Linked DNA regions of Homo sapiens: region 2 is linked to region 1. Evidence: fine-mapped expression QTL. A gene starts in region 1. The other region holds a variant in brackets. All regions are shown on one strand. Distances are from middle to middle. Region 1 holds the start of ADPRHL1 (ADP-ribosylhydrolase like 1). Region 2 overlaps ADPRHL1 (ADP-ribosylhydrolase like 1).

Evidence for each region.
Region 2: its variant is fine-mapped to the expression of ADPRHL1 in monocytes after LPS (Quach 2016, PIP 0.95).

The regions. Positions count from the first base shown.
Region 1 is chr13:113,445,094-113,457,210 of GRCh38, forward strand. ADPRHL1 (ADP-ribosylhydrolase like 1) reads right to left here and starts at 8,395. Exons shown (of 8, transcript NM_001394807.1): 1 at 8,131-8,395. The coding sequence starts at 8,344. DCUN1D2 (defective in cullin neddylation 1 domain containing 2) reads right to left here. Exons shown (of 7, transcript NM_001014283.2): 7 at 10,726-12,117. RefSeq lists enhancers at 797-1,738, 4,066-4,425, 6,427-6,928, 10,925-11,855 and a silencer at 998-1,097.
Region 2 is chr13:113,393,142-113,409,846 of GRCh38, forward strand. ADPRHL1 (ADP-ribosylhydrolase like 1) reads right to left here. Exons shown (of 8, transcript NM_001394807.1): 8 at 6,470-15,079. The coding sequence ends at 10,237. Among named protein-coding and RNA genes, the nearest start is that of GRTP1, 37 kb to the left of the region's middle. RefSeq lists enhancers at 322-863, 12,239-13,033, 14,151-14,836 and silencers at 781-1,130, 1,141-1,250, 4,893-5,187. The variant G/A (reference allele first, on the strand shown) is at 8,449.

The DNA.
Region 1 (12,117 bases):
TCCCCAGCCCCACAAGCAGTGTTCCGGAAACAAGGGTGGGCTCGAGGCCCTGAAAGACCCTGGGGCACGAGGGTGAAGGAGCTGGACACAGCAGACACCAGCCCTATGCCCAGCACGCGGGAGGCCCAGACGTCCTCCCACAGCAAGGGCTAGTTCTTATTTGCCATATTCCCTGATAAGGCTCAGTGAGGTTATGTGTCTTGGCCAAAGCCAGAGCTGACAAAGGTGTTTGCCTGCAAAGCCCGAGCATTTCTGTGATTAAGTAACCCGCAGTGTGTGGATGGAGTCCACACAGCCTCTAAAATCAGAGCCCTGGTGCCTGGCCATGCCAGGACAGGCTGTGGCAGGCGGATGCCCACCAGGTGGGGCCGGCGAGGGCGCCCCTCCCAACGGCCACTTTAACACCCAGCAACTTGTTTTCATTTTGTACTAAAACTGCACTCTGGGCTTGCGGGTCAGCCCCGGGAGACGCCACTGCTCCCTTTTCCTTGGTGATGAATTCCCCACCTTTGGGGAGGGGAGGGGTGGGAATGAATGGGGAGAGGGAGGCGAAGATGGAGGCTTGGCCCACCCTCCATGGGGCAGAAATGGCACTTGGAAGCAAAAGACCTTCCTGCTGGTGGCTGGGGCCTTTTTCAGCCGCATCAGAGCCAGATGTCCTAGCATGGATGGGTTGGTGAGATTAGGAAGGGCACTTGGCAAAGTCACTCCTCCTCCAGGACATGAAACCTCTGTAGCTGCAAACCCCTGGCGAGAGCATACAGGGCCCCCATGGCTGCAAACCCCTGGAGAGAGCACGCGCGTGTAGGGACCATGGCTGCAAACCCCTGGAGAGAGCACGCACGTGTAGGGACCATGGCTGCAAACCCCTGGAGAGAGTGCACAGGATCCTGAGGCTGCACACCCCCCAGAGAGAGTGCTTGGGGCCCAGCGGCTGCAAACCCCACAGAGAGAGCGTGCAGGGCCCGGCGGCTGCAAACCTCCTCACCTCCTACCACAGAGAGAGTACGCAGGGCCCCACAGCTGCAGGCCCCCCCTCCCCCCTCCCCCCCAGAGAGCACGCAGGGCCCGCAGCTGCAAACCCTCCAGAGAAAACAAGCAGGGCCCCTTGGCTGTGAACCCCCTAGAGAGCGCTCAGGGCCCTGCAGCTGCAAACCCCCCAGAGAGAGTGCACAGGGCCCAGTGGCTGTGAACCTCCCAGAGAGAGCACTCAGGGCCCCATGGCTGTGAACCCCCCAGAGAGAGAGGGCTCCCGTGGCTGCAAACCCCCGGAGAAGTGCTCAGGACAAGGACTGTATGTTGTGTCCTCCTACCACCAGTTCCCTGACCCGGCCCAGCAGAGGCCTCTGAAGAGAGGGGCAGTCCTGGGAGGCGTGGCCGGCTGGCCTGTGCACAGTGTTGTCTACATGCACGGTGTTGTCATATGGGCACGGCGTTGTCTATACTCACAGCATTGTCTACTCTCACGGTGTTGTCTACATGCACAGTGTTGTCTTATGTGCACAGTGTTATCCACATGCACAGTGTTGCCAACACACCTGGTGTCTACATGCGCAGTGTTGTATGTGCATGGTGTTGTCTACACACATGGTATTGTCTGTCCTGCATGTATGATATTGTCATAAATGCATAGCATTGCGCTGTGTAAACACAGGGTGTTTACATGCACCGTGTTGTCATACAGGCATGGCTTTGTCTATATGCACAGTATTGTCTACACGCACAGTGTTGTCTACATGCACGGTGTTGTGTGTGCATGGTGTCTACATGCACGGTGTGTGTGCATGGTGTCTACAGTCACGGTGTTGTGTGTGCATGGTGTCTACATGCAAGTTGTATGTGCATGGTGTCTACACTCACGGTGTTGTGTGTGCATGGTGTCTACATGCACGGTGTTGTGTGTGCATGGTGTCTACATGCACGGTGTTGTGTGTGTATGGTGTCTACATGCACGGTGTTGTGTGTGCATGGTGTCTACATGCATGGTGTGTGTGCATGGTGTCTACAGTCACGGTGTTGTGTGTGCATGGTGTCTACATGCAAGTTGTATGTGCATGGCGTCTACACTCACGGTGTTGTGTGTGCATGGCGTCTACACGCACGGTGTTGTGTGTGCATGGCGTCTACACGCACGGTGTTGTGTGTGCATGGCGTCTACACGCACGGTGTTGTGTGTGCATGGCGTCTACACGCACGGTGTTGTGTGTGCATGGCGTCTACACGCACGGTGTTGTGTGTGCATGGCGTCTACACTCACGGTGTTGTGTGTGTATGGCGTCTACATGCAAGGTGTTGTGTGTGCATGGCGTCTACATGCACGGTGTTGTGTGTGCATGGTGTCTACACTCATGGTGGTGTGTGTGTATGGTGTCTACATGCACGGTGTTGTGTGTGCATGGTGTCTACACTCATGGTGTTGTGTGTGCATGGTGTCTACACTCACGGTGTTTTGTGTGCATGGTGTCTACATGCACATTGTATGTGTATGGTGTCTACACACATGTTGTCTGCACACATGGTGTTGTGTGCATGCACAGTATTGTTTTACATGACGCCATGTTCATCACCCCAGTTCTGAGTCAGGGAGGAGAGAGAATGTGGCAAGACTGTGGTTTGGGAGACACGAGTCCTGCAGTCTCATAGGAGAGGTGTGAGGGCTGCATTCCTGCAGGAATTAAGGTCACCTTCGCCTGCACCCGAAACCCCTGGATGGGGGTACAGCTGCGTGGCTTTGTCCAGGCTGTGTCTAAACCCAGTGTGTGCCCCTCACAGTCACCGGCACAGTGGATCCACAAACAGCCTTTCTCAACTCAGTCCTGGGTTAACAAGCCTAGCCCTTCCTGAGTCCCCTAAAAGGATTCATTTTATTCTGGAATTAGACATGAAATGTCTGTATTCAACTGAAATTTAGCCTTTTCAAAGCAAACAGAAGCCATAAAACAAAATGGCACAAACAGCATTGTCTTTTCAGGTTAGAATTTAAGCGAGAAACAGATTTTCAAAGCTGCTACCCTTGGGCTTCTCCCCGGGTCTCTTTCCTTTGGGACACTCCACTCCTGTCTCCTGTCTTCCCTGTCTGGTCTCCTGAAAGACAAATCAGTTTCTAAAGCTGCCTGAGGGGCCGGGTGCAGTGGCTCACACCTGTAATCCCAGCACTTTGGGAGGCTGGGATGGGCAGATCATAAGGTCAGGAGTTCGAGACCAGCCTGGGCAACATAGTGAAACCCCCGTCTCTACTAAAAATACAAAGTTAGCCCAGCCTCTCAGGAGGCTGAGGCAGGAGAATCGCTTGAACTCAGGAGGTGGAGGTTGCAGTGAGCCGAGATCGCGCCACTGTACTCCAGCCCGGGCAAAAGAGTGAGACTATGTCCCAAAAAAAAAAAAAAAAAAAAAAAAAATGGTGCCTGAGTCTCCCAACCCATGTCTCAATAAAGAAAAGGCAAAATACTAACATCCAGTGATCTTGTAGCAAAATGTCAACTGTTTCCAAACGTTTTCTGCCATGAGCTGAAGTGCCACTCCCAGTTATCAGGGCCCCGGGAGAGGCTGAGAAGGTGCTGGCCCTGTGCCCTGGAGGCTGTGGCCAGGTGACACCTCCCGCCATCCTGCTGGGCCCTGAAGTTGGCTGAGTGAGCCTCAGGGCAGAGACATGTCAGATGTGCCTTCGGCCACACGGGCCTGCACCAACTTCCCACACTGGCCTAAGTGCTTCCTCACACTTTGCTGGTTGCTCCGTTTAATCCTCTGTGACCTTGTGAGGGAGGAAGGCCCTGGGAGGGAAGCCACTTCCCCAGTTTTCCCAGGGAGTGGGGGTAGGGAGCTGGGAATGGCCAGCTGCATACCCGAGCAATGGCCGAGCTCTCTGTGCGAGGCCGCCCCTCCCCAGGCCTGGCACACACACACACCTGCTAAACGCTTGCCAAGTGACTTGGTGATAATGCGCTGGCAACATGGGCTTGTCGTTTCAGGGCCATGGATGCCACCTCTCCTATGTGTCTTGTAGAGCGCTAGACACGGCTACTTCCTGGTTCAGAGTCTGCTCTCGTGCCCTGTTCAGAGAGGCTCACCCGGAAGGAGGCAGCCCCAGTCAGAGAGGCTCACCCGGAAGGAGGCAGCCCCAGTCAGAGAGGCTCACCCGGAAGGAGGCAGCCCCAGTCAGAGAGGCTCACCGGGAAGGAGGGACCCTGTTCAGAGAGACACACCCGGAAGGAGTGAGCCCCGGTCAGAGAGGCTCACCCGGAAGGAGGGAGCCCTGTTCAGAGAGACACACCCGGAAGGAGGGACCCTGTTCAGAGAGGCTCACCCGGAAGGAGGCAGCCCTGTTCAGAGAGACACACCTGGAAGGAGTGAGCCCCGTTCAGAGAGACACACCCGGAAGGAGGCAGCCCGGTTCAGAGAGGCTCACCCAGAAGGAGACAGCCCTGTTCAGAGGCTCACCCGGAAGGAGGGAGCCCCGTTCAGAGAGACACACCCGGAAGGAGGCAGCCCGGTTCAGAGAGGCTCACCCGGAAGGAGGGAGCCACACAGGCTGCCCCGACCCTCAGACCTGTGCTCACTCTAGCAGCAGAGCCAGGGTTTGCCAGACCACACAGCCCCGTGGCTCGTGGGGTGAAGGACTTTTCAGTGCAGCTTACTTAAAGCTGCCAAACGTAGTTCCATTTGTAAAAGTCTGCCTGTCTTTGGAAAGCATGCTGAAGAGCCCCTGCACACTGCAATTGTTAGGATACCTGCAGGCCACCGTGATCTCAGCAGTCAGGGAGGATGCTTACGAGCACAGGGGCCAGATTCTCTGGTTCCCGTCCAAGCTCTGCCACTCGCTGGGCTGTGTGGCACTGGGCAAGCGCCTGAACCTCTCTGTATGTCAATTTTTTCTCCTGTAAGATTGTGATAAAATCAGCCTCCACGGTGATGTGAGGAGCATGTGTGGAGGATAACATGCGTGAAGCAGCTGGAACAATGCCTGGTACAGAAGTGCTGTGGAGTCAGCACTCACCATTGTCGTTTTGTAGAGATGGAGTCTTGCTATGTTTCCTAGGCTGATCTAGAACTCCTGGGCTCAGGCAATCTGCCCACCGTGGCCTCCCACAATGCTGGGATTGCAGACGTGAGCCACTGTGCCCAGCCCTCACCATTGTTAACACAGCTTAAAGACCCCCTTCCATAGGCTACAATTTGTTATTTAAAGAACAAAGATAAACTTAAGTGAAATTTCGACTTTGATTTTTAGTGAGTTGAAAAAAATCTGCTTGCTTTGGTTTCTAGAGGGGTAAGCTGTAGGGACCAGCCCCACAGGGTCGGTGGGTCTCTCCCTGTGTGCAGTGACGAGAGAGTGTAGAAATAAAGACACAAGACAAGAGATAAGAGAAAAGGCAGCTGGGCCCGGGGGACCACTACTACCAATGCACGGAGACCGGTAGTGGCCCCGAATGTCTGGCTGCACTGTTATTTATTGGATACAAGGCAGAAGGGGCAGGGTAAAGAATGCGAGTCACCTCCAATGGTAGGTAAGGTCATGTGGGTCACGTGTCCACTGGACAGGGGGCCCTTCCCTGCCTGGCAGCCGAGGCAGAGAGGGAGAGGAGACAGAGAGAAAGACAGCTTATGCCATTATTTCTGCATATCAGGGACTATTAGTACTGATAGTACTAATTTTTCACTAATTTACTACTGCTATCTAGAAGGCAGAGCCAGGTGTACAGGATGGAACATGAAGGCAGACTAGGAGTGTGACCACTGAAGCACAGCATCACAGGGAGACGGTTAGGCCTCCGGATAACTGCGGGCGAGCCTGACTCATGTCAGGCCCTCCACAAGAGGTGGAAGAGCAGTCTTCTCTAAACTCCCCTGGGGAAAGGGAGACCCCCCCCCCCTTCCTGGTCTGCTAAGTAGCAGGTGTTGTTCCTTGCCACCTTTTGCTACTGCTGGACCACGATCCGCCTGGTAACGGGCGTCTTCCCAGACGCTGGCGTCACAGCTAGACCAAGGAGCCATCTGGTGGCCCTGTCCGGGCATAACAGAAGGCTCGCACTCTTGTCTTCTGGTCACACCTCACTATGTCCCCTCAGCTCCTATCTCTGTATGGCCTGGTTTTTCCTAGGCTATGATTATAGAGCGAGGATTATCATAATATTGGAATAAAAAGTAATTGCTACAAACTAATGATTAATGATATTCATATATAATCATATCTAAGATCTATATCTGGTATAACTATTCTTGTTTTATTATACTGGAACAGCTCGTGTCCTCTGTCTCTTGCCTCAGTGCCTGGGTGGCTTGCCGCCCACAGTAAGCAATTCCAGGGGTGATCTTGGATGCGTATTTTCTCATGACCCACAAACTAGACGCTGCAGCAGCACAGTGAACCCTCCCTTCCAGTCCACAGCTGAGGACCCTGAGAGCTTAGAGCAAACTTACTTCCTCCTTAAGAATAGCGCCCCATGGTGGCTCACGCCTGTCATCCCAGCACTTTGGGAAGCTGAGGTGGGTGGATCACTTGAGGTCAGGAGTTCGAGACCAGCCTGGACAACGTGGTGAAACCCCGTCTCTACTAAAAATACAAAAATCAGCCGGGCGTGGTGGTGGGCACCTGTAGCCCCAGCTACTCAGGAGGCTGAGGCAGGAGAATCACTTGAACCTGGGAGGTGGAGGTTGCAGTGAGCTGAGATCACGCCACTGCACTCCAGCCTGGGCGATGGAGAAAGACTCCGTCTCAAAAAACAAACAAAAAACAGTGCCCTAAACGTCCGTAACCCTTTTAACTGTGTGAATTTCGTGTCCTGTTGGGCCGATCTCCGTCGGTGCACTTTTGGAGTGTCCTGTGCCGCTGCCCTCCCTGCGGGCCTGGCAGGACCAGACCCACAGCCATGGACGCTGCCATTTACAAAACGCCCACCAAGTGCTACCAGAAATGGGACATGCAGAGCTGGTATGAGCGCACACACGGCATCAGACGCCCAGAGGAAGCCAAACTCAAGAGTGAGCTCCAGCCGTCTACGGTGAAAACAAGCCGGAGCTGTGTCCCACAGGTGTCTGTGTGTGGGGTGCACCTGTTCTGGGCTGCGGGGCACAAGCATGGGGTTGCTGGTCCTAAGGGCACACGAGTGGCCGCCTGGAAAACCAGAAGCAGGAGCTCCTGGACGCCAAGGCTGTGAACAGTCGGACGCCTCCCCGTCTCCAGCAAGCCGGGAGCCTTATCTTATCGCCGGCGCTTCAGCTCTCCCGTTATTTAGGGACCGGCCACAGGCTCGATGGCATTCCTCTGCTGTGAGCACAGAACTAAACTGGGCACGTCCATGGCAGATGAACAGAATGGTGGAGTGAACGCATAAGTGAGATTTCATTGACTTAGCTGCAGCCCTCAGATTTTAATTCTGCCATGATAAACAGCACCCACGGGGTTTTGAAGAGCAAATGCCTCGTAGGAAAGCTGGACTGCATGTCTGTGCACCTGCCATTTCCCTGAAATTCATGCAAAAGCTTGATCCTAAAATCAATTTGCTACTTAAAGGTATTTTAAGAAGCTTTGTCTCCAATCTCGTCCAATCAAGTTTATGTCATTTTCTTAGAACACATTTGTGTATGGGCAACTCTCCAAGCTGAACCATTTTGGGAGATGATATTCTAACTTTAATTCATTGGAATTTAGAACTAATCCCCAAACAGTATTAATGGGTTCACATTTCAAACTGGCTTATTTTACATCCCTTTGTAATGAATTCAGAACAAGAAGGCTTAATCTCTGCAGCGAGAAGTGAGCCCTCACCCTACTCCCACCAGCACGGCCGAGAGAGGCTTCACTGGCTTTAACTCTATTAGAAACAGAAGGTGCTAGGCCTAGTTAACGCTTTACAAATACAAGTGAAAAGTCACGTTTAAAAACTGAATCTTAATAACTGCAAAGTAAAGTAATACTGTCACCCTCAGAGAAACCACAGGAGAAACGTGATCTGCCGCATATCAAATTTGAGGGACACTCAGATTAAATTGCCACTTTTAGCAGCGGTATCAGGTAACACCATCCGCTGAAGGACCGCACTGCCTTCAAAGCTCTCGGAGGCTTACTGGGAGAACTCGAGCAGCCAGTGTTCCCTCCAGCCCGCACACCGGAGCGCGGTGGGCCCAGCCTACCTGTGGTGAGGGCCTCGGCGGTTGCGATGTGCATGATGGTGTTGTCACTCACGGGCCATTCTCCTGGCGAGAGTACGAGGTGGTCCAGGCCCCCGGAACGTTGCAGCTCCTCCTGGATCTTCATGCCTACAGTGCTGTTCTCCTTGCAGACATTTCTGTAGCCAAGAGCATCGCCGACGCTCCCCAGCAACATCGCAGCCTTAAATTTCTCCATCCCAGGAGGCAGCTCCTCTTCCCCAACAGCTGCGGAGCGTCCTGGCCTTTGTCTCCTCCTCAGCCCGCCTGACTTTTATAGTGGTCACTGTGTCACTGTCAGGAGCGTCCTCTGATGGCCAGGCGCTCCTTGTCTATCTCTGCAGGTGGCACCAATGAGAGGACCTTTCTGTCCCCCACGTGGGAGGTGTCAGTTTTCTTCTGCGTCTGGACAGGCACCAGCTCCTCAGCAGAGGAGCCTGCTAGCTTCTGCCGGCAGCCGCAGCACATTCAGAGCGTTGACAGAGCAGGGGCTCCTCTCGCTGTCCCTGGAAGGAGTGCGCACACTTCCCCGTGTGTGGCGTGGGGTGATGCGGGAGCAGATGTGTGCAGGCGTGCCTGTCACTGCCGCCCGCTGCGGGGCGTGCCCTCACCCCTCGGGCAACAACCCATCTGCTGTCTCTACAGTTCTGCCTTTCCTGGACATTTCAAATACAATGTGTGGCCTTCGGTGTCTGGCTTCCTTCACTCAACATAATGTTGAGATTAATCTGTGACATGCGGTTTTATCATTTAGAAAACTTTTCGATTATGAAATGTGTTTTTGATAGAAAACTTTTAAAAAATGCAGTGTAGAGGGAACAAAGTCTATCTAGCTCCTGTGTGAACAATGACGGTGTCTTCTCAGCATGCGGTGTTTAACGGCTCCCAAATAATTGGACTGCACTGAGGGGGAAAGTCGTCAGCAAACCGCAGGCTTCACTAGAACCTCCCATCCGGCCCTCGGTCAGCTCAGTGTATTTACATCATCCCTGCTAGCTCATGAAAAGAATATTAAAAAATATGGAGACGGGGGGTGAGGCAGAATGCACACAGCCAGGGTTCCTGGTTTGAAATAAATTAGGAAAACAGTCCATCTCCCGACCCCACCCCAGGACAGTTCTCCGCAGAGGCCGGGAGCCCAGCAGGGCTGTGTCTCTCCCGTCTCCTTCCTCGGGGCCTGGTTTCCATCAGACCCAGGGGAAGCAAAGAGTTACACCTGGACTGAAGAAATGCGTCTGATAAAAACTCTCGTAGTGTACAGCGAGACAGTAGGAAGCATTTAACCGCCTGGCGTTATATCAGCACTTGTTAAAACGGAGGATCTCAAGCAGTGAGTTCACCTCACCCTCCACTGTCTGCTGGTGGAGGCAGCCATCAGCACAGTCATGCCAGCTAGCATGATCCTGAGATTCAGAAACAAACTTCAAAACCAGCATGCAGGCCGGGCGCGGTGGCTCATGGCTGTAATCCCAGCACTTTGGGAGGCCGAGGCGGGCGGATCCCCTGAGCTCAGGATTTTGAGGCCAGCCTGACCAATATGATGAAACCCCGTCTCTACTAAAAATACAAAAATTAGCCGGGCATGGTGGTGGGCACCTGTAATCCCAGCTACTTGGGAGGCTGAGATAGGAGGATCACTTGAACCTAGGAGGCAGAGGTTGCAGTGAGCCGAGATCACGCCATTGCACTCCAGCCTGGGCAACAAGAGCAAAACTCTGTCTCAGAAACAAACAAACAAACAAACAAAACTCCAAAACAAAAAACAGCATGCACGCAGGGTCCCTATCCAAACAAGACAGACAGGAGGGGCGGCCCTTCGTTCAAACTCTCACCTGTTTTAGGCACAACTGCACTGTGGGGCCGAAGCGTGTGCTGCTGAGGGGATTAACACAGCCCGCTCGCTGAGCGCTTCAGTTCGCAGGCGGCGGAAACCTTTGCCAAGAGCACTAGCTGGCTCCCTCAGCAAACAGGACGGGATAAGGTTAGCTCGTTTATCCAACAAATATTTGCAGAGCCCCTACTTTGTACCTGAAACTGTGGACACAGCAACAAGGATCAGAAGAAAGTTTATTCTTGGCCCCAAGAAGCCTGAGGTCTAAAATGGATATAAACTTCAAGCGAAAATAACACAATGACATGTACAATGTCACTGAGAGGAGCTGGCGTTGTTGATTCCGGAACGCTGGCAGGTGCACCGTGAATCGGCAGGTAGCACATGATCCTCAGACCCCCGTGCTTGGCCGTTTGCCTCCGATAAGGGACGGTTTCCAGCAGTTTGTGCTGGCACACATGACCTCCTGCCCCGACACACTCCCGTAAATCCTGCCTATTGTGAGATCTCTCATTCCTCACATGAGCCACCCCATCAGGTGCACGGTGCACCGCTGAGAGGCAACGCAATGACAGAAGGTACCTGAGGACCTGGTTACCTGGCCAGGGCTGGCGGGCCACACACGGGGGCAGGGGCTTGCCCGCTGGTTGCTAGCTGGGGGCTGTTCTCTCATCCTGGGACAATGACGTGGATGCTGACACCTATAGGCAGACATCCCTGCAGCTGAGGAGAATCGAAAGGAAACCACGCCCGAGAAAAACCAATTTAATGCTTCTGTTCTCAGCATTTCACAGCATGCAGGACTCAAATGGATACAACAGAAGAAAAAAACCCACAATTTTTGGAAAAGCCTTTGTCCAATGATTAATATTTTGATATCTATTGACAATCCCTTAGAACTTTAAATCTCAAAAACAAAAAAGTACTGTGGATCTCCATAGTTTATACAGAATTATGTGAATTCTATAAACTTTTCTGAACAAAACAATTACATGTCAAGAATCCATGAAGCCTGGAAGATACGCTCACGTTTTTGAGGTTTGTATTAATGCCAGTTTTTATTGTATTAGACAAATGCTCTCTGAGAATCGAAGACTTCTAAAGGTAGACAGGCCCAGTTTCCCATTAGAGTTCTGGAAGCAGAGCCTGGGGAAGGTCTGTCACTTGCCCATCACTGGACCAGCCAGAAGCCAGCGGGGGCCAGGCGGGGTCTGCAGGCTGCAGGTCCCTTCCAGTCCTGTCCCTGCTGCCCTCTGTGACCATCTCTGCTAAGAAACATCGACAGTTCGTCCTGCAGCCTCCAAGCACACTAACCTCAGCCATCAGATGTTCCTGAAGCCCAGGGTAAGTCCTGTTCTCAGAAGCCAACCCAGCTGCTTGTCTGGGCCATGCTCTCTCACACCGCAGCTAGGTCATCTGCGGCGACTCTCCTCTGTGCTGGGCAGCAGCTCCAGCTGGTCCACGTCCTGCACAGTGCTGCAGGGGGGCAGCAAGGCACGCCTGTGACATGAGAGTCTCGGCACGTGAGGTAGGGTCAACAGTGATGTCCACAACTCAATACCAGCCCTCCACACCTCGGCAGCACTCGTGGGTCCTCCTCAACCAGGCGGACACGAGAAACAGATGATAACATGGTGCAAGGACAGACTTCAGCTCACCAATCAGATGAAGGTTTTGGGGTTGGGTTTTTTCAGACAACGATGTACATTTTAGCTTCCAAATGTGCACAGGGGCACAAAGGTCTGGATGCTGGGCACTACGGGTACCACAAGAGGATGGAAAGAACCAGCTCATTCGGTTTTATTGTATGTATGTATGTATTTATTTTGAGACAGAATCTCACTCTGTCGTCCAGGCTGGAGTGCAGTGGCGCGATCTCGACTCACTGTAACCTCCGTCTCCTGAGTTCAAGCGAATCTCCTGCCTCAGCCTCCTGAGTAGCTGGGATTACAGGCATGTGCCACCATGCCCGGCTAATTTTTGTATTTTTAGTAGAGACAGGGTTTCACCATGTTGGCCAGGCTGGTCTCAAACTCCTGACCTCAGGTGATCCACCTGCCTCGGCCTCCCAAAATGCTGGGATTACAGGTGTGAGCCACCACGCCCGGCCTTGATTTTAAAATCTATAATTCATCACTCAT
Region 2 (16,705 bases), 50 kb before region 1:
AGTATCCCTGGCACCTTCTCACAGACAGAACAGGGAAAAGGAGGGGCGGTTTACATCCCTGTGGAGCACAGCAAACCCACACAATGAGCCTTTCAGGTGTGGGGGGCAGGAGCAGGGCGGGGGCTGTCTCCCAGGGACCATCAGTCGGTTGGCTCAGGGGCTCAGGAGCCCAGGCCCGATGCCAGGAAGCTTCTCACCCCTAAGGAGAGGACACGCAGTCAGTCCGACTGGCAAAGTGGCCGGATCAGCGCCTGGCTGTGCCACCCCACATGGAGTGCCACACGCGGTCACAACAGCCCCATGACGTAGGTCCCAGTATTACTATTTTAGGGAAGACTGTGGTACACGCACCCGGACACACAGTTGCACATATGGCCACACAGGCCTCCACCTCTACTACCCAGACAAGTGCCCCAGTGCGCATCACACATGCACATGGGTGTGTACACAGCCTGCCCAGACACAGCCCTCCACAACACAGGGACCCACCCATGCACACACGCGTGTGCACACACACCAAGCAGACACGGCCCCTACACAACACAGGGACCCACCCATGCACACACGCGTGTGCACACACACCAAGCAGACACAGCCCTCCACAACACAGGGACCCACACATGTACACACTAAGGAAATGTGGAAACACTACGTGACCTCCGGTGGCAAGGCCATGGCTGGAAGCCCTGCAGCCTCTCCGGCTTCCAGGTCCTGATGCCAAGGCTGCCCCTCCCAGAATCCACGAGGAGGTCACCGTCCCCGCTCCGCACCAGGGAGGGGCTCCAGAAGCCCGGAGGCCAGCGCCGAGGTCCCCGCACGTACGCCTGTGTCCCCGGCTCTGGGGAAGGCAACCGTCCCTTAGGGGGCCGGGAACCTGCGCGCCGCCCCGACTCCCGCCCACCCCGGCGGCTCCCGGCGGCTCCCGGCGGCGTCCGGATGTGGCAGCAGCTCGCGGGCCGGGGCTTCCTCTTGCAGCAGCCGCCGCCCGGGAGGCCGGCAGCGCCCCCTGGCGGACTCAGGCAGGAGGCGTCCGGCGAGGCGGGCGCGGGGTAGGCGGGCGCGGGACGGTGCAGCCCGAGGCCTGTCCCTGCAGGTGCAGGAGGGACCCGTCGCTCCCCTGCGCACCGAGGGGGCGACAACCCCTCCCAGAGACCTGCTGCCCGCGGAGCCTCCCCCAGTGACTCGTGCGGTCCCCAAAGGAGAGGCGGGAAGCCGAGTCCTGGAGAAGCCTGGAGACAATGGGCAACAGGGGCATTGGGCCTCCGTCCAGCCCCCGCCAGCGCCCCAGGGTCACACATAGGCCTTTATTTTCTGATCCTGAAAGTGATGCAAGTGCATTTAAATTAACGCAGAAAGCAGTGACAGATAACGACGGGAAAACACACCTACACATCGGGTGTTCGTGGATAACCACTGCTCACCTTTTTTCGCGTTTCTCTTTCTTTGCCCCCTTCACACGTATTTACATATTTGAATCTACTATTTTATACTGGATTTTTTTTTTCTTTTTGAGGTGTAGCTTCACTCTTGTTGCCCAGGCTGGAGTGCAATGGCGCCATCTCGGCTCACTGTAACCTCTGCCTCCTGGGTTCAAGCGATTCTCCTGCCTCAGCCTCCTGAGTAGCTGGGATTACAGGCGTCCGCCGCCACCATGTCCAGCTAATTTCTGTATTTTTAGTAGAGATGGGGTTTCCCCATGTTGGCCGGGCTGATCTCGAACTCCTGACCTCAGGTGATCCACCCTCCTTGGCCTCCCAAAGTGCTGGGATTACAGGCATGAGCCACTGCGCCCGGCCTTATATTGGATTTTAAACATTAAATGGTACAATATTTTCCATTTCACAAAGTTCTTCCTCAGCTAATTTTAAATGACTGCTATTTCACTGAATAAGACACCACACTTTATTTAACTAATCTCTTTTTTTTTTTTGAGAGGGAGTCTTGCAATGTTGCCCAGGCTGGAGTGCAATGGTGTGATCTCGTCTCACCGCAACCTCCGCCTCCTGGGTTCAAGCGATTCTCCTGCCTCAGCCTCCCTAGTAGCTGGGATTACAGGTGCCCGCCACCACGCCCAGCTAATTTTTTGTATTTTTAGTAGACACGGGGTTTCACTGTGTTGGCCAGGCTGGTCTTGAACTCCTGACTTCGTGATCCGCCCGCCTCGGCCTCCCAAAGTGCTGGGATTACAGGCGTGAGCCACCGCGCCTGGCCAACTAATCTCTTAATTGGTGGACATTTGTGTCACTTATGGCTGTATCTTGAGTAGTACCACGCTGGACAGATTGCTTTTCCTAAATACAGTTTCTCAAAGCTGGAATTGCTGGGCTGAGGAGCCACCCCTTCTAAAGGTTCTTGACATTATTGCCAAATTGCTTTATAAAAAGGAAGGGCCAATGTTTGGTCCCATCAGGAATGACTGTCTCCGTACATCCTCAGAGGTAGTGAGTGTTACCGATTCCTTTTAAAAATTGGGGGTTTTGGTTCTCAACTTGATAGACCCATGAGAGTTCAACTTCATGTCTTTGACCACCACGCACGCAGTATGTGGTCCGATACGGCACGTCCACCGTGGATGTTGATGGGGACAGCCCCGTGTGCTCCAGTATGTGGTCCGATACAGCACGTCTGCTGTGGGTTTTGATGGGGGCGCCCCTGTGTGTTCTTTTTTTTTTTTTTTTTTTTTTTTTGAGACGGAGTCTTGCTCTGTCGTCCAGGCTGGAGTGCAGTGGCACAATCTCGGCTCACTGCAAGCTCCGCCTACCAGGTTCACGCCATTCTCCTGCCTCAGCCTCCCGAGTAGCCGGAACCACAGGCACCCACCACCACGCCCGGCTAATTTTTTTGTATTTTTAGTAGAGACGGGGTTTCACCGTGTTAGCCAGGATGGTCTCTATCTCCTGACCTCGTGATCCGCCTTTCTTGGCCTCCCAAAGTGCTGGGATAACAGGCGTGAGCCACCGCGCCCGGCCCCCTGTGTTTTCTTGAGTGCAGGGGGCAGAATCCATCCTGGGGAATTTGAGCAGAAAGGGACATGGTGAGCAGTGTGACAGCTCCCAGCTCCTTGCAGGACTAGAGGAAAGGCCTCCAAGCCCAGCTCTGCACTGGCTAATGAGCTTCCTTCTCTCAGCTTCCCTGGAAACATCTTTCTCTGCACACCCAGGAGACTCCATATCACCGGCTCGTCCTCACCGTGGGCCCAGAACCTGCTGTGCCCTGCCGGCCTGGGGAGGTTGCGTCTCCCTGGCAGAGCTGCATGCGTCCCAGCAGCAAGGAAGGCTGGGGATGTGGGATGTGGGACTGCCGTGCAGAGAGAAGACAGGATTCATGTTGTGGGGAGCTGTCAAAACGTAGAAAAATAGCCCCACTTTTGGGGCTCCCATGAAAGACTGGGGTCTTATTCATATGTTTGAGCCCCTTTGGAATTTGAAATGAAGCCGAGTTCCCTTCCTAACGACACAGAGCTCGCAGAAGCCGCCTCTTCTCTTGGGCGTCCACCGTCAGCTCTTTCTGGACTTTGTTCTTCCTGTATGTGTGCGGCTTCCTGCCGTTATCAAAGTCCAAGAATTTCATCAGTTTCTTATTTTGTTTTATTTTTTAACATTTTATTCATTTTTTTTTAAGATACAAGATCTTGCTATGTTTCTAGGCTGGCCTCAAACTCCGAGGCTTACGTGATCCCCCCACCTCAGCCTCCTGAGTAGCTGGGACCACAGGTGCTGCCACCGCACCCGGCTTCTTGATTATTTTATCATCATCATTATTGATTGAGCAATGGAAATCTGTAACTTATTTGGTGCTTTTTTTGGGTTCTTATTTCTTCAAGATTTGGAAAATTCTTCCCTACGTGCAGATTTGCTGGTGGGTTGAGCGCCTTCTTCCAGTTGGGGATTAAGACATGACTTCCAGTGGTACAGGCCGTAAGGAAACAGCCATCCAGAGAATTCAACAGCTCTTTCTCCGCTCTTCAATACAACATGACCTGTGGTCTTTTGTTCTTTTATTTTTTATTTTACTTTCATTTTTAAATAGAGACGGGGTCTCACTATGTTGCCCAGGCTGGTCTGGAACTCCTGGTCTCAAGTGGTGAGAAACAAACTCATCTGTCCAAACCCAGAAGAAGGACTCGGAGACCCGGAGGAGAGTGAAAGGGAGACTTTCTTTCTTTCTTTTTTTTTTTTGAGACAGAGTCTCGCTCTGTCACCCGGCTGGAGTGCAGTGGCGTAATCTCGGCTCACTGCAACCTCTGCTTCCCGGGTCCAAGCAGTTCTCCTGCCTCAGCCTCCTGAGTAGCTGGGATTACAGGTGCACACCACCACACTCAGTTAATTTTTTTATTTTTAGTAGAGACGGGGTTTCACCATGTTGGTCAGGCTGGTCTTGAACTCCTGACCTTGTGATCTGCCTGCCTCAGCCTCCCAAAGTGCTGGGATTACAGGCATGAGCCACTGCACCTGGCTGAAAGTGAGACTGTTGATGATGGTCTTGCAAGATCGGGTGTCTGATGGGCAGCCACAGCCAGCACAGTTTCAACAAATAATTTATCCCCTAGTGCACAGGTGTCTCCCCGGGTTCCTCACAGGCTGAGTACTCTGGGGTCACAGTCTTCTGGGACGTCACCTATTGGTTGTTGGGCAGGGGCTGTAGGTGTTTTTTTTAGGGGTGTCCTGTTGCATTTTGTTGCAGCCCACAATGCATTGCAATCCCAGTCAGCCCAGGGGCTCTTCAAGTATTTGACTTATGACCTAAGTAGCTGGGCAGGCTGATAAGAACAGACAAAGCCAGCTATTTTGCAGGCTAGTAAACTGTTATCTTAGACTAAACTTCTTTAGTTCAGGTGAGAGCACCTAAGGGCCGGGGGGAAGGGAGGGAGAAGGGGAGGCCGGCAAGCAGGCACTGGCGATCCAGGCAGGGGCCTCGGACCTCCTGTTTCTTCTGTAGTTTGCTGACTTAAGCCGATTCAAGGCACTTTGTCTTGGAAACGGACCACTGTAGACACTGTTGCCTTCACTCCCCGCTTGGCCTCCTTTGTTCTTCTAGGAGAAGATGCCTCGGCACTTTCACGAGTTTGGGGTGTGCACAGATGGGGCTTCTAGTAGGCTCCTGTGCCTTCGAGTGGCTTCCCAGACACCGCCTGGGGTTGTGGACCTGAGCCAGGCCAGTCCTCTCGCTGTCAGAGAAACGGCGTGCACTGCTCAGCTGCTCAGTCCTGGGCTTTGGGGGCTACGTGACATCCATTCCTGTCAAAAATCCATGGCGGCCATAAAGATTCAGCAAATGCACCGACGCTCAAACAGACAAATGTCCCGGCACTTCCTTTTGTGGTTGGGGCTTTTTCTTCTGTTCAGGGAAACATTTGTCTACCCCAAGCTTATAACAATATCCCAAGAATGGGGTTTGATCAGACTTCTATGTACACCAGTCTCACAGACGCCCTCAATAAGTGCTTTTAAAAGTTCTAGCCGGTCGCAGAGGCTCACGCCTGTAATCCCAGCACTTTGGGAGGCCGAGGCAGGCGGATCACGAGGTCAGGAGATCGAGACCATCCTGGATAACGTGGTGAAACCCTGTCTCTACTAAAAATACAAAAAATTAGCCGGGCGTCTTGGCGGGCGCCTGTAGTCCCAGCTACTGAGGAGGCTGAGGCAGGACAGTGGCGTGAACCCGGGAGGCAGAGCTTGCAGTGAGCCGAGATCACGCCACTGCACTCCAGCCTGGGTGGCAGAGCGAGACTCCGTCTCAAAATAAATAAATGAAATAAAATAAAATAAAAGTTCTAATGAAAGCCTGTGTCATAGCTTAATTGACAGGGGTTTTCTTTCAGGACAAGAGGTGCCTGCACCATCCCAAAGCCTCGGCTGCCGGGCCAGTGCTCTCAGACACGAGGCATCAGCTCGTTTCAGTGGAACAAGCTTTCCTCCTCACAAGATGCCAAGAACCCGCGCCACCCACGGGCACAGCAGGGGTTTGGAATGCAGGCATTCCCAGCTAGGTCTGGCGTGAGCTTAAACCACCCGTTGTTAAATCCTCATGAAAAGTCACTTACAAAGTTCTCCTGCATACAGAGTAGTGGAGGGCAGAGGGTGTCTCACAGGCCTGCTGGGCCCGTTGCACCCATACTCCTTCCCTCCCTTCTGTCCAGTCTCCCTCCGTGTCCCAGAGGACACCCCAGCCCTTTGGCCCCCCGCGGCCCAGGTGCAGTGGCCGAAGTCCAGCTCCCTGGGTCTTGCTCCGAGGCCGGCACAGTCTTGACTGGACCAAGAGAGGGTCTGGGGAGTGCATGGCCTTGTCTCTCTAAGCACATCCTAAGGAGTTCTCCTCCCACTTGGGGCCTTGCCCCAGACCCTCCCTCCTGCCCAGGATCACTGCTCCAGGCTGGCCACATTCACCCGATGGGGGCTCTGCCCCTCGCCCCAGGCCTGAGTCCTACTTCATTTATGCGGCTGCTTCAACAATGCAAGGAAGAGATTTGTAATGGGAAAGGTATTTTATTTCTTTTTGAAATTATTTCCAGCTGAATGATGTTAGTAAAAATACAGAGAGAATACAACAAATGACATTTAGTAATTTTTTCTGACTAACCCATTTTAGGGTTGTTTATATACAAAGAAGAATATGAACAAGAACAAATTTAATAAATAGCTGTAGCCTAATACACAACCGAAAGACCGTAACTCCAACAGCAGAGATACCCTGAGAACAGAATAAGGAGGTGGTGCTGAGCGTGTAAAATCCCAGACAACGACCCTCCCTGAGCGAGTGTCCTGAACATGACCACATTCTCGTCGCCGTCTCGGGACCTTCCTGCCGCCTGAGTGCACCGCCTCCCGCCCGGCTGTTGTCACTTGCACCCACAGACCTGCGGCTCACAGTGGGCCTGTCGACAGCCGGAGGCACCGTAAAAAACTGCAGGGAGGAGGCAGTCAACGAGTCGCTCAACTACACAAAATTAATGATGTTAACTAAGAAGCTAAAATAAATATCCTGTTTTCTTTTCTTTTCTTTTCTTCTTTTTTTTTTTTTTTTTGACGGAGTCTCGCTCTGTCACCCAGGCTGGAGTGCAGTGGCGCAATCTCGGCTCACTGCAAGCTCCACCTCCCGGGTTCACGCCATTCTCCTGTCTCAGGCTCCCGAGTAGCTGGGACTACAGGCACCCACCACCACGCCCGGCTAATTTTTGTATTTTTAGTAGAGACAGGGTTTCACTGTGTTAGCCAGGATGGTCTTGATCTCCTGACCTCGTGATCTGTCTGCCTCGGCCTCCCAAAGTGCTGGGATTACAGGCATGAGCCACCGTGCCCGGCCACTTTCTTTCTTTCTTTTTTTTTTTTTTTAAAAAAACAAAACAACTTTGGGTTTTATTTAAAATGCCCGTGGAGGTGGTTAGCGCCCCATTCTTCTGCTGTAGTTATTTCACCCCGGGAGGGTGTGGGCCTTAGCCATGTGGCCGTGATGGTCGTATCTGAAGTGTGAATACTTCCCCGCGCTATCTTCTAACCTGCGCTGTCTCAGCTTAGTGTGAACGTACGGACCGTTCTCAAATCCTGGTGAAGTCACTGGCAGTTTTTTCCTGCACACAGAGTAGCTGTGCTGTTTTTGAGCTGAGGGCAGTGTCATGCTGGGCTGCATCTGGCACATGGAGAGGACGGGCCAGTCGAGCAGGTGGCCTCCTGGCCGCTCACAGACTCTGCGCCCGCCAGACTGTGAGAGGGGTTCAGGCACGACACTTCCGGAGCTGTCATCTGGAGGAGATTCTCATCATTTTTTCCACCACTTAAAATAAAACCACTCAATGCCTTCTCCAGTGTACTCTCTGGTCTATTTAAAAATAGCAGCGCAAGTCCCACCACTTCTTATTTATAAAGGGAACAGCCAGTGAACATATTTTTACCTCCCGTGTCTGTCATCATGTTCTTGCCACTCATTGCCTCCAATTCCAAATAGGTAAAGAGTGAGGGCCGTGCCGCTGTGCCTGGAGTGGCAGGGGCAGCCACACAGACCTGGGGGTCCCTGAGCTCCCCCAGCTCCAGGGAGGACGCCCCAGGCATGAGCAGGGGCCGCCAACAGGACAAAGAGGCCACTCTGTCAGCCTCTGCTGGACCCCTGAGCTCCCCTCTCATGGGCCTCTCCGTTTGGGTGGCTCCGAGAGGCCAACTCCAGCCCCAACTGCAGGCTCCCAGGACTGCAGGGGCAGGGACTCTGGAGGTCCGTGTGCTTCGTGAGAGAGGGGACCCTGTCCTCCTAGCAGGGGTCCAGCGGCACCACAGCAAGACTTCTGTGGCCAAGTACACGCCATGCTCAGCTCTGCCCCCACCCGCACCCCCGGACCATCCTGTGTGCAGCTGGGCTGCCCCGGGACCCACACGCGCGAGGGGCACCCGGTGCTCAGGAGCCTCCACACACAGCAGCTCGCACTTAGAACCCACACGCCAAGCAGAAACCCCTCGAAGC[G/A]GGCTGGGAGCACGGACCCCTGATTTATAGAGGAGGCCCCGGGGGCCCTGTCGGGGGAGCTGTGGGGACCGGCCCCCCAGAGCTCAGCACAGCCCGGCCCTCCTTCCAGACACCAGCACTCGCATGTCCCAGCAGGTGAGGGTGGGTCAAACCTGCTGGATCTGAAGTTAATTGTTCGACTGGAAGGAAACCTGTGCGCTCCCCGGAGCATGACGCCACGCCGCCTCCTTGGCGCTGCAGAGCCAAAGCCACTGGCGTCTGCCGGGATGGACCTTCCCTGGAAGGAGAGACCTCAGCCCCGCGTGGGTAGGACGCGCCTGCTGAACGCCCTCTCAGGGCCGACACTGGAAAACACCTTCCTCTAAAGGAACATCCGAGTCAGAAAACAGGTGCTCGCAGCAGGCACCAAAGCGCCTTTGCGAACGCTTAGGGCTGTTTCAGGAAACCGCTCAGTAGCAAAGGCAGAAGATGCCAAGACACCTTCAAAAAGCAGGAATTAACTTTCCACAGGGAGGGCACCACCAAAAACAAGGGTGCGGGGCTGTAGGGCGACAGGCTGCATCGGTTCACGCTGAAAATCCAGCTGCTCCGGGGCCACTCAGGCAGCCGTGTGGCCTCACGGGTCCGGGTTTCAGAGGCCACCGAGTGGCCTGGGACGATGGATCGCGACACGGAGGTGCATGGCTCCATCATGGGGAAGAATGTGCTTTAAAATAGGTGCATGGAGGAAGAGCCTAAAAAATAGTCCAGAGTAGCAACAAAAACCATCTCGAGGCAATGTGACCACAGGTGGCTTTGATTTCCTTCTTGTGCCTCTAGACAGCATTCAAATATTCCAGCCTGAACATGCATTACCTCAGTACCTGAACAGGGCCGGAGTCGTGGGCCGTCTCGGGCCAGGGCAGGAAACACTTCTATGCTGTTCGGGAGGACGGAGGACAGACAGCGAGGCTCTCAGGTCACCGGCACCAGTGGCACCACCCACAGGGACTGCAGGGAAGGGCGGGCAGGCTCCCGTTCGTTCTCCCAGCACCCAGTTTCCAGACGAAGCCTCCCTGGGATCCTGGCTTCCCACGGCTCTGCACTGTCCCTTTCTCAGAACTTAACGTGGGCATTTCCTGAGGCCTCTTCCTCCGGATGAGCTGGTTTCGGCCTGGGATCCCAGCGTCCCCACACCCTCTGGTGACCACCACATGGCCCAGCAGCCACACAGCACCCGGCACCCACCTGGGCGTCTGAGGCTGGAGGAAGCTCTGCCCTTTCTTTCGAGTCATGGGGGTGGGGCGGTGTGCATCACTTTGGGCCCATGGATGGTGGGTGCCATGCGGCCACGTCAGAGCAGGGCATGGTGGGGTGTGGGCAGGGAGCAGTGGGAGGTGGCCCTGTGAGAGCTGGGGAGGTGTCCCAAAGTGCCAGCATCCTGCAGATCGAAGGGGACGCACACACCGTGCCACTGCGGGAGGTGTGAGCTCCACGCTGCAGGCTGTGTGAGAGAGGGGTGAGCCGGCGCCCCCGAGTGAAGACACAAAGAATCCCGAGGGCCTGGTGAGGCCACAGGCCCGCACCTCCCACCCCCATGGCCTCGTGGCTCTGTGGGGTGACAGGAACCCGACCCACATGTAGCTCAATCCTCCCAAGGTCAGCTTGTGAAGAAGGGAAAGAAAATTATGGAAACAGGCGTCTCTGTAGGGGATGCTCCAAGACGCATTTGGAGGCAGGAAAATGCCTGAAGTCCCTCAATGGGCGGATGTCACAGTGCTGGGCGAGCCACGGTGTGTACTCGGGGCCTCACTTTGGGAGCTCAGACGTGTCGCTGGCCCTGACGCTCATTGGTCTGAAGGACAAATCGAAGGCCCTCTGGTCACGGAAGCTCTGGGCTTTGTACTTGGCCAGGTGCCTGGACCTCCCGCGACGCTCGGGCTCCGATGCCTCCATCCTGTCCTGCAGGGCCCTCTCAGCCCCAGGGTGGTCTGGGGACCCCTCCTGGGCCGGGGCCTGGGGAGTCCCGCAGCCCCCAGCCTCAGGCTTGGGCTCAGTTGGGCTCTTTCCCAGCCCCAGGGGAGAGGTGGCAATGCTCTTGCCCCTGAGGGGGCGGCTTCCTGGGGGTGGGTACCCGGCGCTGGGCTCCCCCAGGCCACTGCCCCCTGACTGTCCACCATCCCTGGGGGCTGGGCTTCTGGACCCCCCACTCCTGCCAGCAGCATCCACTCCCTCAGCTATGCCACTAATGGGCTGCTCCCAGGCCCGAGGCGCCATCCCACTTGTCAAGGCCTGTTCCCGACCCTGTTCCCAAGCCCGTTCCTGAGCCCCTTTCTGGGTCTGCCTCTGAGTCTCTATCTGGGTCTGCTCCCAGCCCTGATCCCGAGCCCGATCCCGAGCCCATTCCTGAGCCCCTTTCTGGGCCTGACCCTGAGCCTCTATGTGGGTCTGCTCCCGACCCTGTTCCTGAGCCCGTTCCTGAGCCCCTTTCTGGGCCTGTTCCCGAGCCCGTTCCTGAGCCCCTTTCTGGGCCTGTTCCCGAGCCCGTTCCTGAGCCCCTTTCTGGGCCTGTTCCCGAGCCCGCTCCTGAGCCCCTTTCTGGGCCTGTTCCCGAGCCCGTTCCTGAGCCCCTTTCTGGGCCTGTTCCCGAGCCCGTTCCTGAGCCCCTTTCTGGGCCTGTTCCCGAGCCCGTTCCTGAGCCCCCTTCTGGGCCTGACCCTGAGCCTCTATCTGGGTCTGCTCCTGAGCCTGTTCCTGGGCCCGTTCCTGAGCCCCTTTCTGGGCCTGACCCTGAACCCGTTCCTGAGCCCCTTTCTGGGTCTGTTCCTGAGCCCATTTCTGGGCCTTTATCTGGGTCTGCCACTGGGCCTGTCCCTGAGCCTCTTCCTGGGCCCATTTCTGAACCTCTCCTTGAACCTGTTTCTGGGCCTGTCCCTGAATCTGCCCCTGAGCCCATTTCTGGGCCTGTCCCTGAACCTGTCCCTGGGCCCCACCCTGAGCTGGTTCCTGTGCCTGCCCCTGGGCCTCTATCTGGGTCTGCCACTGGGCCTGTTCTTGAGCGTGTCCCTGAGCCTGTCCCTGGGCCCAATTCTGAAACTGTTTCTGGGCCTGTCCCTGACTGTGTCCCTGGGTCCCACCCTGAGCCTGTTCCTGTGCCTGCCCCTGGGCCTCTATCTGGGTCTGCCACTGGGCCTGTTCTTGAGCGTGTCCCTGAACCTGTCCCCGGTCCCATTCCTGAACCTGTTTCTGGGCCTGTCCTTGGGCTGCCGGGCTTCCCGGCCCCTCGGGCTCCCCTGGAGGCACAGCTGGGTTCCTGGCAGCCCTGGTGCCCTCTCCCCACGCCGTGCTCCGCCCCCGCTCCTCCCAGGGTCCCTGCAGATGCTGCTGACCTTGGTCACTGCGCTGGCAGGCGCCCCCAACCCCAATGGCCATCCCTTTGTCCCCGGCCAGATCCTGTGCCCACCATGTCTGAGGCTCTTTTGCTGGGTTCAGCACAACCTTCGAGCCCGACGGCGCCACCCTCTTCCCCGCATCCCCGGGCTGGGGGGTCTCCTCCTGTGCCTGGTGACTCTGTTGCCTCCCCAGGTCCGCCTGTGTCAGGGGACGCTCCTGGGATTCACCTGCCTGCGTCCTAGGCTCGGGGACACTGGCCCGGAGCTTTGCCTGTGTGTCACCAGCAGTAGGGGGCAGGTGTGCCTGTAGATGGGGAGGGCCCCGCTGGTGGGTGCCACCTACCCACCCCATGTCCACCTCCGCGGGAGGCACTGCGGGAAGCAGATGGTCAGGCTCCGCCCCACGGGGAAACCTGACGCCCTCCCTGCCCTTTGCCTGTGGGTTCTCAGGAGGCGACGGCGGGAGGCCAGGGCCATAGCTGGGGGACTCTGCCACGCTCCTTGCCTGTGGCCTAGGATGATCAGAAGCAGGAATTCCAGACTCTGTGCTGAAACCCAAAAGGTTTCCTTCCACAGCCACATCCTTTCTGCCTCCTACAGCTGCTGTATGTCTGCTGGCTGCTGATGTGTTTGAAATGTATAATCGGGCCGCCTCTGGGTGCCGGGCGAGGGCCGCAGCATCCTCCGGGTGGCGGGCGAGGGTCGCAATGTCCTCTGGGTGCTGGACGAGGGCCACGCCTCTCAGGAGGCTCCTCCCTGCTGCTCCACTCTTGGGCTCCAAGGATCCCCCAGGGGCCAGGAGGCCGTGGCTGTGAGGGTCTCGAGGGAGAGCCTCTCCTCTGGGGTGGCTTTCGGACAAGGCTCTGCTTCCCCACTGGCCCAGCGTCTCTGGCTCTCCCGCTGTGCGGTCTCCAGGGCTCTGGGTGCTGCCTGGCGCTGGTGCAGGCGTGGCGCGGCTCGCAACGCTCCCTGCAGCTGCCATCGCCCCACAGGCTTTCATACCTGGTTTGGGTGGTTCATTTAATGAGGACAGTGGGTTCTCGCGAACATCATGGCTGGTGATTTCCTCGGCAGCCTTCAGGGGCTGAGAAGACTCTATTAGCAGCGGCCTTCTGCATTCCTCCAGCGCACCGGGCACTGTCATGCCCATCGGGGTGACACCCTCAGGCCCCGTACGCCCCTTGGATGATGCCGCCAGTGACGTGGGGGCTCCTGTTGGGTTTCTCCCAGTCGGGGACGGCACTTGCTGGCTGCTGGAGGCATGGCTGGTGTTTCCCCTCAGAAGGTTTTGTGAGGCTGCAGGATCATTTGTTGCGGAGCCCTTCTTCTGCATTGATATTTCATTAGATTCCGGCAACGGATGCTTCACATCTCTGAGCTCAGAGGTCCTCTCTCCTGAAATATCGTCAGGATTCCTGGGACCGTGTGAATTCTCAAAGCTGCCTTTGTTTTCCTTCCCGCCAGCAGGATCTGTCTGGAGTCTCTGTGTCAGAAGTGTCTCTGGGACACTGTGGTCGGCGCCCACAGCCCCTCTTGCTGCTGCCAGACGCGGAGCTGCCCGTGGCCCCTGCGGCGAAGAGGCGCTGAGTCCCGCCTGCATCCCTGAAAGCTTGCTCAGTTCCACTGGGGCTCGGTGACCCCTTCTGTTCTCAGTCACGGTGGGAAATTCTGTGTGGGCATTTTCAACCACATTCTCTCCTCCACAAATACAAGGTTTGTTTTCACCACTTGACATATTTTGCAGCCTGGTGGGAGGGGCTGGCATTTCATGGACAACTGGAATTTGGACAGTTATCCGTGGAGGCTCCGTGGCAGGCTGTGTTCTCCGAGCAGCCTGGACCGATGGAGCGTTCAGGGGTGGGATGTGCTCCGGCACCTTCTGTTCTGGGAAATACTTCTGGGTGGCAAAGAGGGGGTCTCTCCCTGGGTCTGGGAAGCCTGCTCCTTCCCTTTCATCCTCTGAACTGCAAACAGTCATGGTGATTTCAGGGCCCTCCCCTGCACACTCGCCTGGGGGCCCAGGAGGCCACGTGAGCCTGGCTCCCCTCACCTCCTGGACGCCTCCTGCGGTGCTCTCTGCGGTGGGGTCTGCAGTCCCATCACCTCCGGCTGATCCGGTGCCCCAAGGGCTGGCCGGTCCCAGTGGGGATGATGCAGGCACAAGGCCAGGAAGGACTCCACCTGTGCAGGGAGCACAAGAGAAGGCCAGCGAGGGGACAGCGTGGCCGTCCCTCTGAGCCATCACCTGGGGTGTCACGGGCTTCGAGGGCCTTGGCTGTCTTTGGGGCTCCTCCTCCAGGGGCCCCTTTCCCACTGCTTTGTTCCCACTGGGCCCCGTCTCCCTGGCACTAGGGGGCACGCTGGCTTCTCCTCTGGGTGGACGCCTTGCCTCCGAGTGGCTGATTTTGGTGCAGTGGGACAGCCAGCTCCTGGGGCCACAGACGACGGTGGCGATGCTGAGGGCCGGCAGGGGCTCAGCCGTGCAGGCCAGAAAGCGGGCAGGGGGCATCTTGACGCAGGTGCTGGCCATGGTGGCCGTGTGCAGCACGCGCACCTCCGGCCGGTGCATCCTCTTCCTCTGCAGGTTCCTCTTCTTCCGCTCCTGCGTGTGCAGCCTCAGCGCACTGGCCTCGGAGCACAGGCAGCTGTTCTGCTCGAACTTCTCCCGCAGCTTGGACAGCACCGAGCTCTTGCCCATGATCTTCGGCAAGAGGCCCCTGGCGGCTTTGGGCCGCTCCACAGGGGGCTTCTCGCGTGCTTCTTTCTCCTTCGCCTCCTTCTCCTCGGCGGCCAAGAATATCTTCAGGATGTTTTTCACGGTGCTCTTCCCGGCCGGGTGGCCCCAGCGGGGCTTCTCGCTGAGGCAGGGCTTTGGGGCCGGCTCCTTGGTCTTCTCCAGGAGCTTGTTGATGGTGGCACCCACGAGGCCCCCACCCGGCCCCTGCTTGTCCTTGGAGATCAGCCGGCCCACCTCCCTGGTCCTCTTGAGGTAGCGCTCCCGGCCAGTGCCCAGGAACTTGGCCTGCAGGAGCTGGAAGCGCGTGGGCCGCTGGGTGGCCTCCTGGGTCTGGGGCTGGTGGCTGGGCCTGCTCCCCCCGGCCTCTGTCCCCGGGGGCCGGTCTGCGCGGCCCGTGACGTAGAGCAGCAGGCTGCTGAGGATGGAGTGGGCGGCCGGGTCACAGGCCAGCTTGCCCATCTTCTTCTTCAGGGTTTGGGCGTCCACAGACATGACGTCACTGCAGGTCTTGCTGCTCTTCCGGCTGCAGAGAAAAAGGAATCATCACCTACTTCATCATCATTTTTCTCCAAGATGACTCTATAGAACATTTATCATGGGGCAATCCCACCTTTTCAGGGGCCCCAAAAGTCTGGTAGGGAGAAAAAGAGATTAGGAGCCAGGAGCTGTGGCTTCTGGGCTGTCTCTGCTGTTAATTCGGGGTTGGCAGGGATGCCAAAGCTTTTCTGGGTCACTGTTTCCTGTTAAATGGCAGGAACTTCTGACACACGCTCCTCCTAAGGGCATTGAGGAGTTGACATTGAACAGTTTAGTGAAAGCGTTTGGAAAACCACTTTGCATATGCAACATATTAAAAGAAAATTTTAACAAACATACTTTGCTTGTACAGTAGGTAAAAAAGCACATATAAAGAAGTGTCTATTCTCTGTGTGGACTGTGTATGTCTCTACCTTTAAGTATGAAAGATAAAATTAACAGCATATTTAAATTCTGCCATGATCCCAGGGACCTGGGTCCCTACAGCAGAGACTGAAGATTCAGCAAACCGCTCAGGCTTGGGGTGGGCGGAGAAGGCAGAAAGAGTTTCCTCACAAGCTCCTGGGCAGGAACCAGCACTGCAGTGGGCAGTGCCCACCAGGAGCAGGGGAGGAGGGGGCTGCAGAGAGGAAGGGAGGAGGGGGCTGCAGAGAGGAGGGAAAGATGGGGCTACTGAAAGGAGGGGAGGAGCGGGTTGCAGAGAGGAGGGGAGGTTGCAGAGAGGGAGGAAAGAGGGGGCTGCAGAGAGGAGGGAGGAGGGCTGGGATCACTTGGCTGGGTCTCCGGAACCCCTTTCAAAATGGCTTAGAGGAGCCACTGAGGCTGGGGGCTGCCGCCCTTTCCCAGTGAGATGTTTTTCTGCAGGTTCACCAGGGATTCCTTCCCACCAGCCCAGCTTTCAAAGAGACGGGACCAAATGGGTCTTGGCTGGAGAGACAGGGTCTTTGTGATTTGATGGTGTTTTCTGAGCCTGGGTCCGGGGTAAGTTCTGCTCCTGAGCAGCCGTGACCACAGGAGCAAAGCTGGAAGGTCTCCCCATCTGTGGCAGGGGGTGGAGCCGTCTCTGACCTCCCCAGATGATAATTTTGGGTAGACGCACCCAGAATCTTAGCTGTCACACCTGTTAGTCATTCATTCTAAGGAGATCATCAGGGATGAGGAACAAAGACTCGAGTATTACAGGAAAAGTCGCCTTCATGGTGCCGTTTATAATGTTGAAAAATCTAGAGCATCCTCGATGTCCAACTCCAGGGCGGCCGCACAATGGCACGTCCACATTTGTGGGAGAAGAGTCGGTGGCCGGATGCGGCTGGTGACGTGGTGCCAAGTGAAAAGCTCACTCTAACCCGATTGTTTTTAAGAAGCTGAGGCCGGGCGCCGTGGCTCACGCCTGTAATCTCAGCGTGATTTGGGAGGCCGAGGCTGGCAGATCACGAGGTCAGGAGATCGAGACCATCCTGGATAACACGGTGAAACCCCGTCTCTACTAAAGATATAAAAAAAAATCAGCCGGGCGTGGTGGCGGGCGCCTGTAGTCCCAGCTACTTGGGAGGCTGAGGCAGGCGAATGGCGTGAACCCAGGAGGCAGAGCTTGCAGTGAGCCGAGATCGCA